Linked DNA regions of Homo sapiens: region 1 is linked to region 2. The links come from fine-mapping of genetic effects on gene expression. Tissue or cell type: monocytes after R848. Region 2 holds a variant in brackets; the other region holds the start of a gene. All regions are shown on one strand. Distances are between the middles of the regions.

Region 1 (8,267 bases), 75 kb before region 2:
GCAACCATGCTGGGCACGACTGCTGTGGCCACCGTGCTCTCAGCCACTTTCCCATGCCCAAATAAAACGATAAAAGACTGGGGGCTTCTGCCCATCCTGCCTCACTTGACCAAGAGCCCAGAAGAGGATGCGACACCCAGGGCCTCATGGGACCACCGGCTGGCAGGGGTTCTGCTCACTGGGTTTATGGGTGAGACGAGCACTCCCAGGAGGGCCACTGGGCCGGGAAGAACTGTGGAGAATCGGGGCACGCCCTGTCCTCCCAGCTGCCAGGGCACAGCATCCCTTCCCCACCTCAACACCCAGACCCCAGATTCACCCCAGTTCACTTGTCCCCACACGAGCCACAGGCTGCCACCTGGGGCAGGCTGGCCCCACCTTGGGGTTAGATGCAGGTCCCCTTGCCCCAGAAGGAGACTGCAGCCCCTGCAGACCTAGAAATGGCCACAGCCCATCCCCATGCACCAGGGGGTGAGGTGGCAGGTGGTGGAAAGGGCCTGAGGGGGGCTTCTTCCTTCCAGGCGAGCACGACCTCAGCGAGCACGACGGGGATGAGCAGAGCCGGCGGGTGGCGCAGGTCATCATCCCCAGCACGTACGTCCCGGGCACCACCAACCACGACATCGCGCTGCTCCGCCTGCACCAGCCCGTGGTCCTCACTGACCATGTGGTGCCCCTCTGCCTGCCCGAACGGACGTTCTCTGAGAGGACGCTGGCCTTCGTGCGCTTCTCATTGGTCAGCGGCTGGGGCCAGCTGCTGGACCGTGGCGCCACGGCCCTGGAGCTCATGGTCCTCAACGTGCCCCGGCTGATGACCCAGGACTGCCTGCAGCAGTCACGGAAGGTGGGAGACTCCCCAAATATCACGGAGTACATGTTCTGTGCCGGCTACTCGGATGGCAGCAAGGACTCCTGCAAGGGGGACAGTGGAGGCCCACATGCCACCCACTACCGGGGCACGTGGTACCTGACGGGCATCGTCAGCTGGGGCCAGGGCTGCGCAACCGTGGGCCACTTTGGGGTGTACACCAGGGTCTCCCAGTACATCGAGTGGCTGCAAAAGCTCATGCGCTCAGAGCCACGCCCAGGAGTCCTCCTGCGAGCCCCATTTCCCTAGCCCAGCAGCCCTGGCCTGTGGAGAGAAAGCCAAGGCTGCGTCGAACTGTCCTGGCACCAAATCCCATATATTCTTCTGCAGTTAATGGGGTAGAGGAGGGCATGGGAGGGAGGGAGAGGTGGGGAGGGAGACAGAGACAGAAACAGAGAGAGACAGAGACAGAGAGAGACTGAGGGAGAGACTCTGAGGACATGGAGAGAGACTCAAAGAGACTCCAAGATTCAAAGAGACTAATAGAGACACAGAGATGGAATAGAAAAGATGAGAGGCAGAGGCAGACAGGCGCTGGACAGAGGGGCAGGGGAGTGCCAAGGTTGTCCTGGAGGCAGACAGCCCAGCTGAGCCTCCTTACCTCCCTTCAGCCAAGCCCACCTGCACGTGATCTGCTGGCCTCAGGCTGCTGCTCTGCCTTCATTGCTGGAGACAGTAGAGGCATGAACACACATGGATGCACACACACACACGCCAATGCACACACACAGAGATATGCACACACACGGATGCACACACAGATGGTCACACAGAGATACGCAAACACACCGATGCACACGCACATAGAGATATGCACACACAGATGCACACACAGATATACACATGGATGCACGCACATGCCAATGCACGCACACATCAGTGCACACGGATGCACAGAGATATGCACACACCGATGTGCGCACACACAGATATGCACACACATGGATGAGCACACACACACCAATGCGCACACACACCGATGTACACACACAGATGCACACACAGATGCACACACACCGATGCTGACTCCATGTGTGCTGTCCTCTGAAGGCGGTTGTTTAGCTCTCACTTTTCTGGTTCTTATCCATTATCATCTTCACTTCAGACAATTCAGAAGCATCACCATGCATGGTGGCGAATGCCCCCAAACTCTCCCCCAAATGTATTTCTCCCTTCGCTGGGTGCCGGGCTGCACAGACTATTCCCCACCTGCTTCCCAGCTTCACAATAAACGGCTGCGTCTCCTCCGCACACCTGTGGTGCCTGCCACCCACTGGGTTGCCCATGATTCATTTTTGGAGCCCCCGGTGCTCATCCTCTGAGATGCTCTTTTCTTTCACAATTTTCAACATCACTGAAATGAACCCTCACATGGAAGCTATTTTTTAAAAACAAAAGCTGTTTGATAGATGTTTGAGGCTGTAGCTCCCAGGATCCTGTGGAATTGGATGTTCTCTCCCTGCCACAGCCCTTGTCAATGATATTTCACAGAGACCCTGGGAGCACCTGCTCAAGAGTCAGGGACACACGCATCACTAAATGCAAGTTCCCAGGCCCTGGCTGCAGTGGGAGGACCTGGCAAGCTGCACTCTTGCTGAGTCCCCAGGGTGGTGGAAGAAGAATGAGAAACACATGAACAGAGAAATGGGGAGGTGACAAACAGTGCCCCCACTCAGACTCCGGCAAGCACGGCTCAGAGAGTGGACTCGATGCCATCCCTGCAGGGCCGTCCTGGGCACCACTGGCACTCACAGCAGCAAGGTGGGCACCATTGGCACTCACAGCAGCAAGGCAGGCACCAGCAACCCACCTCGGGGGCACTCAGGCATCATCTACTTCAGAGCAGACAGGGTCTATGAACTACAGCCGTGGGCTGCTTCCAAGGCACCCTGCTCTTGTAAATAAAGTTTTATGGGAACACACCCATATTAGTGTCCATGGAGTGGCCGTGGCAGAGACGTCCAGCCGGACAGACCAGCTGACCCGCCAAGCCCAGCATGGTTAGTGTCAGGACCTCTGCTGAAGATGCTTGCTGACCCTGGCCAGACCCCGGTTCCTAATGCCCCCTAAACGGGACGGGAGCCAGTGGCGGGCCCTGATCCAGGTCAGAGCTGGCTCTGCTTTCTCTTTTGTCCGAGTGACCATGCCTCAGTTTCCTCATGTGTAAAACAGGAGCCCACCGTGATGCTTATGGTGGGATGAGATCAGCATGGATGGAACAAGGCCCTGGAAGGGCCCATGCCATGGTCATCGACAGCAAAGCCACTCTGCAGACAGATGCTTCAGTGAATTGGTAGAAAATTCTGCAACCAGAATGCCCGGGGCTCCTGAGGGCCTAAGCCCAGCCCAGGGTTCTGGAAGCCACTCTGACTTCTTGGGAGTGGAAGTTGGCAGGACTCTTCCTGGGAAGAAGCGGAGGGTGGGGATGAGAGGACAGTTCAGGAGCCCACCCAGACCCACAGGAGGAAACTAGGGGAGTCATGCGGGGTCCTGGTGGAGCGCCAGCCTCCCTTCCTGCCAATGGGAAATGCAGGCGCCCACCTCATGGTGCTGCCGGAGGAGGGGGCCCGGGACTCCCCAGAGGCTTCGCTGAAGGGCCTGGGCGCCCCCAAAGGCTACATGTTTCATATGGGACGTGCCACCTGCCACGGCTCAGCTCCAGCTTTCTGTGAGTGGCGAGATAGAATACGGGGAGGCCACTGGCCATGGGCCTGGGACAGGGTGGGATGAGGCGGCAGGCTTGGGCCACCAAAGCCAGCATCGCCACCCAGCATTGATGACAAAGACTGCGTGTCTGCCATGAGCATCCTGCTGTTGGTGCACACACCGCATTGGTCTCTCCATACAAACATGCCTAGAGGCGATGTCAGAGGGTGGAGACCAGGAGAGGCAGGAGTCAGACATCTGGTGCCACCAGGAAGGCCCTTCTCAGAGGACCAGGCTGTGCGTGGTGCCCGCCGTGGGAGGCCAGCCTGGCGTTGGCATCCAGCATCATCAGTTTGTGCAGTCGGGTGGGGCTCAGTGAGTGCCTCCTGTGTGCCAGGCACAATGACGCACAATGTGTGCACACCAGGCTCATGTGCAGGTGGCTGCGAGACAGGGCGACCCATCAAGGCAGATGCACCATGAGGCAGTGGCCAGTGCTGTGGGTGTTAGGGGCATTGCTCCCCGGCCACTACGGCATAGCAGGCAGTGATCGCCACACTGGCCAAGCTTTAGACCATTTATTCCAGAGACCCCAGAGGCAAAAAGCCCGGCTGCACCTCCCAGTGACTCCCACAGCCATTGAGCAGAGACACTCAGGACCTTGTGATGGGAGGTTTCTGCACTGGAGAACGAGCCCAGAAGCCCTCTCAGCCTCGGAACAGTGTGGCCAGTGGTGGGCAGGTCAGGAGGGGCTTCAGACACAGCCTGTCCCTCCAGATGGTCACGGGAAGGTCACTCCCCACAGAAGTACGTTTTGGGGCCATGCGGGCACAGAAGGTTTGGGGGTGGGTGGGGCAGGTGCCAGCCTGGCCTGTGGGAGGCCATGGTGCAGATGCCAAGCCCCCCCCGTGACATGAGACCACCTGATACCACCCAGAGAGTGGCTGTGAGCGGAAGGGCCCGCCCAGAAACAAGCAGGGCCTTGGGGCAGAAGTCCTGGGCTCAGATCCCACGCTCACTGCCAGCGGCCTCGGCTCAGGCTTCTGCGCTCTCTAAACTTAGTTTTCTCTTCTGGAAAAATGATGGGGAAAATGATATTTGTATGTGAGGACTGAGAGTTAAATGTAAACATCTGGAAACTACAAAATGAGCACGAAATGATGTTTTTATTCTTAGAACAGAAAGTCCCCACACCCGCGGCCCTGGTGACTGATGAGGATGAGGTTCTGCGGGGCCTCTCTGGCCGCCCAGCTCTGCCTGGGGAAGGTGGGGCCAGAGTGGATGTGTTCCCAGCGTGGTCACTCCCCTGCCTCGCCAGCAGGTCTCGGCTCCAATCAGGAGGCCTAAGCCAAGTGATAAGCAGCCAGACAACAGCCATCCCAGCTGGGGCGTGGACTTTGCTCCAGCAGCCTGTCCCAGTGAGGACAGGGACACAGTACTCGGCCACACCATGGGGCGCCCACTGCACCTCGTCCTGCTCAGTGCCTCCCTGGCTGGCCTCCTGCTGCTCGGGGAAAGTCGTAAGTGCCCCTCGCCCTTCAGACCCAAAAGCAGCGCCAGGGAGCAGGGAGGGGCGGCAGTTGGGGAAACCCTCTCATCTCTGCAGCCTGGACGGTGGGTGCCTTGAGTGCTGCCAGAGGCTGGGCTCGGATGGCTGGGCTTGGCCTTTCCAGCCAACGGCATCCTCAAGGCCAGCTGTGGCTCCCTGGGGCTGAGAGTCAGACGGGCGGATCAGAGGTCACAGAGACAAAAACACAAGGACAGAGTCAGAGAGAGAAAGGGAGAGGGAAGGAGAAACGGAGACACAGTGAGATGGGAGGCCAAGAGGCAGAGACAGAGGTAGAAAGACGGAGACAGAGAGAGAGGGAGGGGTTGGGGCAGGCAGAGACAGGACAGTTAGCCATCTGCCACCACAGGGAGGCACAGGACGAGGGGCACAGCAGAGGAGCTCCCAGGGAGGAGGAGGCTGAGCCGAGCCAGTGCCACCACTCTCGGACTGGCTCCGTCGGGGAAGGAGCTGCCTAATGCACAGCTGGACAGGTGGGGGCAGCAGGGCTGTCCAGGACCCCCGGGTCTGTCCAAAAGCAGAGGCCCAGACAGGACAGAAGCCAGGCAAGCCTGGGGACAGCGGAGGAAGAGGAGGCCCCTCTGGTGGGGACACGAGAGACAGGGACCCTAGACTTGTTTGCATCCTGGACAAAGTGGACAGGCAGGGGCACCAAGGGGACCCAGGCCTGGGAAGGGAATGTGTGAGGGAGAGACGGAGCAGGGGGAGACCCTCGTGGGGTGGAAAGGGGAGACCCCTGGGAAGGCTGAGTGGATCCTCAGTGCATCACTGACCTAAACGGCCCCTCCGCCTGGTGACTTGGAGCTCCAGTCACATCACACGGGGGTCTTCTCCATCCCACCCTCAACCCCCTGCCCTCCCCAGCCTCTGTCCCCTGAGCCACATCTTCCTGTCTCCCACGCGGAACGGGACTCCCGTCTTCATGGGGTACTGTGTGGCTCCAACTCGCCCAGCCTTCTTCCTCCCCCTCAGGCCACACTGCCCCCTGCAGGAGCCCACTGTGATGCTTGTGGTGGGATGAGATCAGCGTGGGTGGAACAAGGCCCTGGAAGGACCCATGCCATCATCATCGACAGCAAAGCTACTCTGCAAACAGACAGATGCTTCCGCGAATTGGTAGAAAATTCTGCAGCCGGAATGCTCTAGGATCCTGAGGCCCTAAGCCCGGCCCGGGGCTCCCGAGGCCCTAAGCCCGGCCCGGGACTCTGGAAGCTGCTCTGGCTTATTGGGAATGGAAGTTGGCAGGACTCCTCTTCCTGGGAAGAAGCAGAGGGTGGGGATGAGAAGACAGGCCAGGAGCCCACCCAGACCCACAGGAGGAAACTAGGGGAGTTATGCAGAGTCCTGGTGGAGCGCCAGCTTCCCTTCCTGCCAATGGGAAATGCAGGCGCCCACCTCGCGGACCTCTGGGTCCACAGGGTATTGGCACCCTTAGCTGTGTGATGCGGGCCTGGCTCATAACCATGGCCTGTGGTGTCCCCGGGGGCCGGCCTGGACCCTGGGTGGACATGGCCAGCCCCGGAGAGCCAGGGCCAGGCCATCTCTCTCCCCTACTCTGCCTCAGAGGCCTCGGCAGCTGCACTGTGGGGTGGGTGGGGCTGAACACAGGTCCCAGAAGGTCCCACTCAGGACCCTGCTGTGCACACTTTTGATTTTAATAAAATCAGAATGCGCACAGCATCTGCAGTCTAGCCTTTAAACGAGCACAGCTGTCCTGGCAGTCACGGAAGTTCTTCTGGGGCGGTGGGACCTCAGCATTCCTTTGCTGGTACTGCTACAAGAAAGGACAATGGACCAAGTAGCTTAAAGCAACAGAAACATTTCTCCCACAGCTCTGGAGGCTGGAAGTTCAAAATCAAGGCGTCAGCGGGGCTGGTTCCTCCAGAGGCTGGGAGAGAGTCTGCTCTAGGCCTGTTTCCTGGCCTCGGGGTGCCAGCGGCCTCACAGCCCATGGCTTGTGGGAGCATTGCTCCCATCGCTGCCTCCATCATCGCATGGGGTTCTCACCATGGCTGTTTTTCTGTCTTCTTTTCTCTCAGAAGGACACCAGTCATTGGATTTAGGGCTCACTCTACTCCCATAAAATGTCTTCCTAACTAAATACATCACAAAAGTTCTATTTCCAATTAAGGTCAGGTTCTGAGGTTCTGGGAAAGACATGAATTTGGAGGGACATTATTCAGCCCTGTCCTGCCACCTGTGAGTGTTTTCTGCAATCCAACTTTTTATTTTAATAAAATCAGAATACGCAGAGCACCTGCAGTGCCAGCCTTTAAACTACTGCTGTTGTACTGGCAATCATTAAAGCTACGTGGCTTCAGTTTCAATCTTTACATTCAACAAGTTTAAACCCATTCTTCATGAGTTTGGACCTTACTGACTGAAAATTTTGCTTGCTGGTAAAACTTGCTCAAATGCAGTTGCTGACTGTGGAATTCACTGATGTTGCCAAAACAACAAACACAACTGTGTGCTCGAGGATTGCAATGCTCCCAACAGCTTCTGAAGAAACAAACCACACGACAAATGTCTACCAATCTGGATGCTCCATATCAGAGTTCTAGAGTGTTCCATTAATTTCTTGAGACAAGTGCCTAAAAACCTTGTTTTAATTTCGTTTTGCCAAAATCCCATTTTACTCACATCAGAAAGTGTGGCCACGTGGCCCAGACCCGGCCTGCTCAGTCTGACTGAAGCGTTGATGCGACTCAGCCATAACAGATAGCAGAAGCGCCCAGATTCAGTCCAGAGGGCTGAGCCAGGCACGCCATCTTTCCTTCATTCCCTCAACACATATTGGTTAAGTTCCGGCCGTGCTAGGCACGGGCATACAGCTGTGACCAAACACGTCAAGTCTTTTTCCAGCGGAGGGAAGGATAAGCCTGTCAGCATGTAATGTCAGAGAGGGGTTGGGTGCTAGAAGACAAATAGCACAGTGTAAGGGGATGAAAGAGACACGAGTGGGGGCAACGTCAGAGGGCGTGGTCAGGGAGGGTGTCTCGGAGGGCGCTGGGCCTGAGCCACTTGGGTATCTGTGGAAAGAATGTTCCAGACAGGGAGGTGACTGGTGCAAAAGTCCTGGGGTGTGAGTGTTGGGCTCAGCCAGGGTCAGCGCAGAGCCCAGTGTGGCAGAGAGAGGTGAATGAGGGCAGAGTTGAAGGTGGTGAGGCCTGGGAGGCCTGGCCA
Region 2 (8,267 bases):
CAGCAAGATGCTATGAGCCAGGAAGCGGCCCTCTTCATCAGAAACTCAACTTGATCTGGACCTCCCTGCCTGACTTGATCTGGACCTCCCTGACTTGATCTGGACCTCCCTGCCTCCAGAACTATGAGACATAAATGCTTGTTGGTTACAAGCCAACCCAGTTTATAGTATTTTCTTATAGCAGCCCAAATGGACTAAGACATGACTAACACAAGATATTACGAAATCCATTCAGTGCTTTAGGCAGACCAGTGGATTTCAGTGTAAAGGTAGAAAAAGTTTATTGGTACACTTCAGAAGCCACATTGTAACTAACCTTTTTAAAAAAAAAAAACTGCCTCTTGGAGTTTTCCTATATAGAGTCAAAGAATTATCTCAATGGTCTGGAAAGCCTATGAGAATATTCCTCTCTTTTCCATCTACAACTTTGTGATGTAGCCTTTCACCATCAGGCAGAGAAACACTTTACTCAAAACAGTGTACTGCAACAGAGTAAGTGCAGAAGCAGGCAAGGGGACCAGATTGCCTCTGCTGAACTAGACATCAAAGAGGTCAAAAGTGATGTGACACTACTTTTCTTAGTATTTTGTTTTGGAAATATAGTTATTTTTTATTTAAAAAGTCAGTTATGTTACATGTAAAAGGTTTATTATTGTTGCTTTAAAATGAATATTTTAAAATCTTTTCTAATTAAAATTTCTAATACAGTAAATATAAATAGATATAACAAAAATAAAAGCTTTCTGAGGTCTTCAGTATACTTTTCAGTTCTAAAATTTCCATTTGGTTCTTCTTTATATCGCCTATTTCCTTGTTGAGACTTTAAATGTTTTCATTTGTTTCAAGCATGTTCTAAATTGCTTGCTGAATCAAGAGGGCTGTTTAAAACTCTTGTCACATAATTCCAACATTTGTACAATCTCAGCCTTGGTGTCTTCTGCTGAATGTTTTTTCTCATTTGAAATCTCTGAAAGTTGAGATTTTCCTGGTAATCAGTGTCGATTAGATCCCGGACATTTGAGGCACTACCTGACGAGACTATGGACTTTATTTATCTTGTTTAGCAGGCCTCACCATGCAAGCAGAGAAACAGGTGCATCCCCTTAGCCACTGAGTCGGGGAGGTCTAGGTCCCCTGCTTAGCCTCTGACATCCACCTGGTGGGGAGGGGGACTAGCTCCTCATTACTGCTAGCCCAGGGTGGAGGTCCTGGGCCACCCCCAGTCCGCACCACTTTGCAGATGGGGTGGGACGGACCTGCTGACTTCTTTGCGCCTGGCACTGGAGTGAGGCAGTGACGGTCAGAGTTCTGTCTTGCTGGATTGGACTGTCTTCCCAGCCTCCTGGTTTCCTTGGGGCTTTTTGTCTCTGCCTGATGGTGAAAGGCTTCAGGTTTCTAACGCGCCCAGTCCAGGACAGACAGGAGACAAAAAGGAAACCTGGAGACTCCCTACACGTGACTCTGAGCCCCATCCCCCTCTTCTCTCCACCTCCCATAGCCATGCCGGCCTGACAACTCCCAGGGTTTTAACTGTTTCTAGCAGGCACAATAGGGTGAAATCCATTGCATCCTGACTGGAACTGAAGTCAACAATCATTTCTAAAACTGTAAAGGGGTCGTCCTAAAACCAAAAGGTTGACAAATGCTGCTCCATAATGGGGACTTCCGTGGGTCCCCATGGGGACGTCGCCTCCATAAAACCCAGGATCTCCCTTCACCCCAGGGAAGCCCCCTCCTACTGCCCAAATCTATATGAAGCTGAATTCTTTTTGGTGGGGGAGCAGGCCACATCTTAAAGGTAGAAGAGATGCAGAATAAGCTCATTTGTTGTTGTTCCACTCACTTCATAAAAATAACACATACCATAAATGGTTAACCACAAAATGGAACCTCTCCCTCTATATGAACAGTGTGGAAATCTGAGCAAATGTTTATATAAATCTGTTGGTGTTAACCCAGAAAGAATAGTCAATATCTTTCTTTTGCTCCCTATACCAGACACATCTCAACTCCAATTTGCTCCTCAAAACTTCTGGGAAGAATGACATGAAATTAAACAACAGATAGTCACCAAGTTTTAGTTTTAAAATAATAATGACAGCAAATTAAACTTACATTATTGGCAAACACTCGAAGGTCAAGCGCTACTGCATACATGACAGGCAGAGCCCTGCAGGGCAAAAAAGTAAACAAGTGTGAGGGGCTACGTGGGCCAAGATTCCATCCCCAGAGGTGGGAAGAACACGGACACCCAGGGCTACTATCCAGAATGGAGTCCGCACTTATCCAAAACTCTGACAGTTGTCTGCTTCCTCACCTTCTGTCCAGGCAGGCTGCAGGCCTCAGACTTCCTGATCATCCTGGGGCCCCACAATGCGGTGCTCCACACCCCTGTCCCCAACCCTGTCAGAGACCTCAGCCCTGCTTCAGTTCTGGGCTCCCAGGATATCCTCCTCCCCTCAGCTTCCCACCAGTATCCAAACAGCACCACTAAAAAAGAAGTGGTTTGATCAGATTTCCTAACAGGAACCAGAATATGTAATACACAAAATGTCACAAAACAACTTTTACAGCCAACTGGCAAAACTGGACTGTTTTCATGTGCAAGTTTTCACGTTAAAAGATAAAAGGGTGGCGGGAGGCAGAGGCTGCAGTGAGCCAAGACTGCGCCACTGCACTCCAGCCTCGGCGACTGAGCAAGACTCCTTCTCAAAAAAAAAAAAAGATAAAAGGGCGGGTTTGTTTGCAAAAGGCCTTTGGTTATTTCAGTATAAACAAATTTCAGTATTAACCTATAGTTTGTTAATAAATCATAAAATTTAGTTTGGCAAGGCATTTAAAAATACCACCATTATTATGTATTAGAACACCCCAAATGAACCGTAGTTGGTCTACCTCTTTTATCTAAGGTTTAAAACCAAAAGTTCAAAATTGACAACTGAAGGAAAAAACAGTATTTAATAAATATCTAGGGAAATGGACATCTGAAATAAAAATAATACTATATTGACATAGACACACTGCAAACAATGTGGCTGATCTACCATTTCAGTTTACTAGATTTGTGACTCCACTCATCTGTGTAGATATTACCATATGTCAACACACTGATTACCAAATATCCACATGGAAAATACAATACACATTTATTTAAAGCAAATTTGTAAAAAGATTCTGCTAAAAAAATTGCCATTTGCTAATTCAGCTGTTTCTGTTCACACTTACCAGTTTTCTTCTTTGTGGGCCTGGAATGCTCGCAAGAATGATGTACTGTATTAAGGAAGATATGGCATACAAAGTTCAAATAATGCTACGTACGATAAAAGTAAAGAATAAGAATCTAAATTTTAAGGAATGTAGATCACCCTTGAGCAGATTTATGTTGCAACAATAGTAAGTTCTTGAAGGAAAAAAGGTATAAGCTCACATTACAAATATCTGTATCTCATTAGGCTCAAGTATACTAAATACACTTATTTCATACACACTGTCTCCTAAATAAAAAAGACTTACAAGATTTTTTAAAATCAGCCCTTTCTGACATTTTATTTGGTTTCTCTGAGCCCAGATGATCATGAGTTATATTTAAGTGCTTTAGAATCTGTAGCATAAGGCTGATTTTATCAACTCTAGAATTCTTGAATTCTAAGGAGGCTGTGAGCAAATAGCCCAACTCTCTTCTGTGTATATTTAAACAAGGTGGTTAAAACGAAAAGACAAAATCTAGAGATACATACAAATCCTTAGCACACTCACTGACTCAGGCCGTAACTAAAGATACCCTTTAAATGACTGAAGTATGAATTGGTTTGATTTAAGGTCTTCAGCTGCCACAATTCAATGCCGATGTACATCTGAGGCCACTCTTGTCCATCTCTGCCTGAATTCTGGATTTCTGGTATTTCACCAACAGGACTTAACCAGTCCCTGTAAATATACTTACTACCTTACTAAAGGCAACAAAGCATTCTTCTTCTCAGCAGAGTAAGATCCTTCTTCCTAACCAGTGTTCTTCCTTACTAAGTACTGCACGAGTCTTCAGATCCATGCTAAATTTAAGTACCCAAGTGAAAGAGCTGAAACGAGCTTCTGTTCCAAAACACTGTCATTCCTTTCTAACTGCAGAAATGAGCAACTGGCCCAGTGTTTCCGGGTCTCAAGTCCCAAGTAATCCACTGCATGTGTTCTATGCGGGACAGCTGCCATGAACGACAAAGGATATTGGACTATCACGGTCTGGCACTTGTATGCCTCTATGAAGTCATGATTCCCCACTGCATAAGTGCACCTGGAGGAGAAACAGAAACATGCTGTCACACAATAAAAACCTAGCACTAGTTATGCAGCCCACACAGCTCACTTCATTGCACAGGTCCCAGTGGTCCTGGGATGAAAGGAGTGAAGGAAGAAACACACAAATGGCTGAACACAAACAGGTGAGGATAAGAGGAAGTCCCACAGTAAGCTTGGAGACTACTCTTTCAAGTCCCAGAAGGACCTAGCACCAGCAGGTTTATGAGTAACACATGTTGATAACATAGTATGACCCTTCCACTCTAGCAGGGGCTGACAATGACATTCAAACTAGATTCCCAGCTGGGTAATGTCAGTGTTAGTTCATCGCCAAATCTGGAACCTATCGCACACTGCACAGAGCTAGGAAATCACAGGTGCTTTGTACTACAAGGAACACGGTGGTGCCCCAACTCTTCCAAAGACCCTGTGGGGTTCACAGAACATTCCTGCTCACAGACCCCACACTGGTCCTGTAGCCCAGGCTGCTCTGAAAGACAGTAATCAAATCTCACATGGCTATAAGGACACAATCTTCTGCCTGAACTGATCCTTTAGAGATAAAACAGTAGATATGAAGTGTACATAAAAAGTAGCATTGTTTGCTTTGCTCAACTCTAATTTCTTTCCCAGTAACGTAAAGAGCTTCAAAAACAGACATATTTCCACGAAAAGGGTAAGTGAACAGTTCGGCTCCAAACTCTACTAAAAAGACCACT[A/G]AGCAGGCACTCTGCTAAATACTGTGTGATGTTAAAAATAGTATTATATAACTGATGTTTACAATTTCCACAGGCTTTACCAAACTGAAGTTACAAATGCATTTTCCCACTTTTTCAAAGTCAGTTATTCACTGCTTCAAGCACAAGATAATGCAAGATAAAATCCCCAGTTAATTCAGCAATTTCCAGATGTGTGTGTTTTTCTTCCTCCCCAACAGATTACCTTAAATGAGCTGCAAACATTTCATCATAAGGGGGTTCCAAGACTTGTTGACACTTCTCCTCTGGAGAGGCCATCTGATTTTAAAAAAGAAAAATAGCAAAAGTAAAATTAATAGGCACAGAAAGAATGCAACATATAGAAAGAGATTTAAACCTCTGTTTCAAGAGAATTTATGCTTTACAGTTCACAGTAACACTTTATATTTACCACTCTAAATAAAAGGTTCAGGCCGTGAGCACAGTGGCTCATGCCTGTAATCCCAGCACTTTGGGAGGGCGAGGTGGGCAGATCACTTGAGGCTAGAAGTTCAAGACCAGCCTGGCCAACATGGTGAAAGCCCGTCTCTACAAAAAAAATTACAAAAATTAGCTGGATGTGGTGGTACACGCTGGTAATCCCAGCTACTCAGGAGGCTGAGGCATGAGAATCGCTTGAACATGGGTGGGGGAGGTTGTAGTAAGCCAAGATCGTGCCACTGCACTACAGCCTGGGTGACAGAGGGAGACTCTGTCTCATAAATAAATAAATAAATAAATGGTTCATTACTTCAACAAATATTTATCAATATTTCAGGGGAAAAAGAAGCCCATGAATATAATTTGGTCTCGCCTTCTGCAAGTCAGAAAATATTCTAGGCACTTTCATATACATTTCAGTATATTAGTATTCTTGACCAGTCAGTCAAGAAATACTTGTTAAGTAACTGTCATAGGTTTAGTAAGTGAGGTCTAATGAGTTACAGATGGTGCTATGTTAGGACTCGTTCTTCTCGGCTTCCTGCTGAGACCACCAGTCTCATCTCCTGGGCTAGTCTAGCTGACATTTCTTTCTAAGTTTTCCTTTCCTCCTAACAGTCAAATTTTAGATAATCTGAACATCTCAACAGGTGATGGTTAATTTTGCCAACTTGACTAGCTGTGGAGTCCCCAGACAATGTTATTTCTGGGAGTGTCTGTGAGGGTGTTTCTGGATGAGACTGGCAGTTGCACTAGTAGACTCAGGAAAGTAGATGGCCCTCCTCAGTGTGGACGGGCAATGGCCAATCTGATGAGGGCTTGAATAGAACAAGAGGTCGAGGAAGAAAGAATTCACTCCTTGTGTGGGATTTCTTGACCTCTACAATCACAGGACCCAGTTCCTCATACTAAATCTCTATAAATATTGATATATCCCACTGGCTCTGTTTCTCTGGAGAACCCAGACTAACACACAATGGATTATAAGCACACTGCGTTTTTTTGTTTTGTTTGGTTTTGTTTACAAAAGCAATGAGCCCATGCTGATATGGTGAGAGAGAAGAATGACAGTATCAGAAAAATCACCATTCTACAGTCCCTGGTGAATGAAACCACCGAAAGAAAGTTTACTGGGGAATTTTACAATGAAGGGATCTGTCTCAGATTGCAAACAGGACAGTGTGTGTCCTCTCATGTCATACAATACAAAGCACAGGGCACCAGCCATGGGGTGTTCTGGCCAAGGCAAGCCTGAGTCTCATCGAGTCTCTAGCACTAACTCCTACTTAGAGCAATGGTTTTCAACACTGTCTACACATAGAATCACCTAGGTAACTTTATTAGAAAAACAAAAACAGGCCTGCTGCTACTTCAGAGACTGATTTACCTGGTCTGAGTTGCAAGTCTGTACACCGCCAAACATAATCACCAATAGATAAGCCCATTTTTCTTCCAAAAGAAAAATGCTGCTTCCAGTAGGAACACACTCCAATATGATAAAGGGTGTCAATGAGGAAACAGGGCTTTACCAAATGTCCACAAGATTTTCTATAGAAAATACTGCCTCAACATCATCTACGCCACAGATGACATGGAAACTCCATGTACAACCCCAGGCTGGGCCTTGGCTTGCCAGCCTTTCTGACTAACAACTTAAATGGGAGACACCTGTGGTACATGACGTCTATGGGGCTTTGGGGACGCACAGGCCTAGACAGAATCTAAGCTCCACCGCCTCTCCACCATCTAACTTCTCTAAACCTCAGAGAGCTGTCTAGGAATCAAACACAAGGGCAGGAGGTCCACATCACCACAGTGTGCGTACATAGTCAGTGCTCCACAAATGGATTGAAATTACATAAATCATAAAGAAACTTTAAAATTTTCAAATAAGAGTGACAATATTAGTTTTCTTCTTACTCAAACTCTACGCTTCTCTTAGGAAAGTGGTTACCCTGTAATTGTCTGCAGACACCTGTGTGCACAGCTCTTTCACCTACTTGAAGTCGTGGGTTTGCAACATGAGGATGTTTAAAAGACACCAACTCTGCACAAGATGCTCCATCTCTGCTGTCGATGGCTTCGTACACCTGAAACATTTGAAAGGGAAACCTAAGTAGAAAATAAAATATTCTGTTCGAATAGAACCTACAACAATACACTGAATGCCACACAGGGGAAAATTCATTTTCCCCTACTTTGAAAGAAGACAGAACAATCAAAATGTAACAGATGGTCACTACTCTCTGCAGTGGGTAAACAATAATTTCTTTTTTTTTTTTTTTTTTTTTGAGACGGAGTCTCGCTCTGTCGCCCAGGTCGGACTGCGGACTGCAGTGGCGCAATCGTAAACAATAATTTCATTTCAAAATAGGTTGTTCCTGGCTGGCTCAGGCCTGTAATCCCAGCACTTTGTGAGGCTGAGGAAGGACTGCTTGAGCCAGGAGTTCGAGACCATCCTGGACAACATAGCAAGACCCGTCTCTTTAAAACAGACCAAAAAAACAAAAACAGATGTTCCTGAAGCAAAAAAACAGGTTAAGCAAATAAAAATAAGTCAGTGGTTTATCATGTAGCTCTTCATGAAGATGAATTATTCTAATTTTACTCAATCACACTAATATATGTTTGAAAATCCAAATATACAGCTTATGAAAAAGAAATCAGTTTAAAAACCACATATATCCAAAATTCAAAAAGCTTCCACTCAACCTTAATATAAAATAAAAGGAAAATGGAAATAGCTAAATAGATGTCACATTCATACAATGCGATACTCGGCTGCTGTTAAAAAGA

Alleles and levels. Positions count from the first base shown, and alleles are read on the strand shown. Sizes are in standard deviations (SD) of each study's normalised expression.
For the expression in monocytes after R848 of the gene that starts at base 4,908 in region 1, allele A in region 2 goes with a lower level than allele G (large effect, 1.2 SD a copy in Quach 2016).

What was found. PIP is the estimated chance that this variant, and not a neighbour inherited with it, causes the effect.
Region 1: F10 starts here. The variant in region 2 is fine-mapped to the expression of F10 in monocytes after R848 (Quach 2016, PIP 0.95). The same link has a PIP of 0.9 or more in monocytes, monocytes after LPS and monocytes after Pam3CSK4.

Annotation. Positions count from the first base shown.
Region 1 is chr13:113,117,892-113,126,158 of GRCh38, forward strand. F10 (coagulation factor X) reads left to right here and starts at 4,908. Exons shown (of 8, transcript NM_000504.4): 1 at 4,908-5,034. The coding sequence starts at 4,965. It overlaps F7 (coagulation factor VII), which reads left to right. Exons shown (of 8, transcript NM_019616.4): 8 at 522-2,794. The coding sequence ends at 1,117.
Region 2 is chr13:113,192,956-113,201,222 of GRCh38, forward strand. It overlaps PCID2 (PCI domain containing 2), which reads right to left. Exons shown (of 14, transcript NM_001127202.4): 2 at 7,472-7,561; 3 at 5,236-5,309; 4 at 4,223-4,288; 5 at 3,226-3,267; 6 at 2,116-2,170. Among named protein-coding and RNA genes, the nearest start is that of PCID2, 12 kb to the right of the region's middle. The variant A/G (reference allele first, on the strand shown) is at 5,013.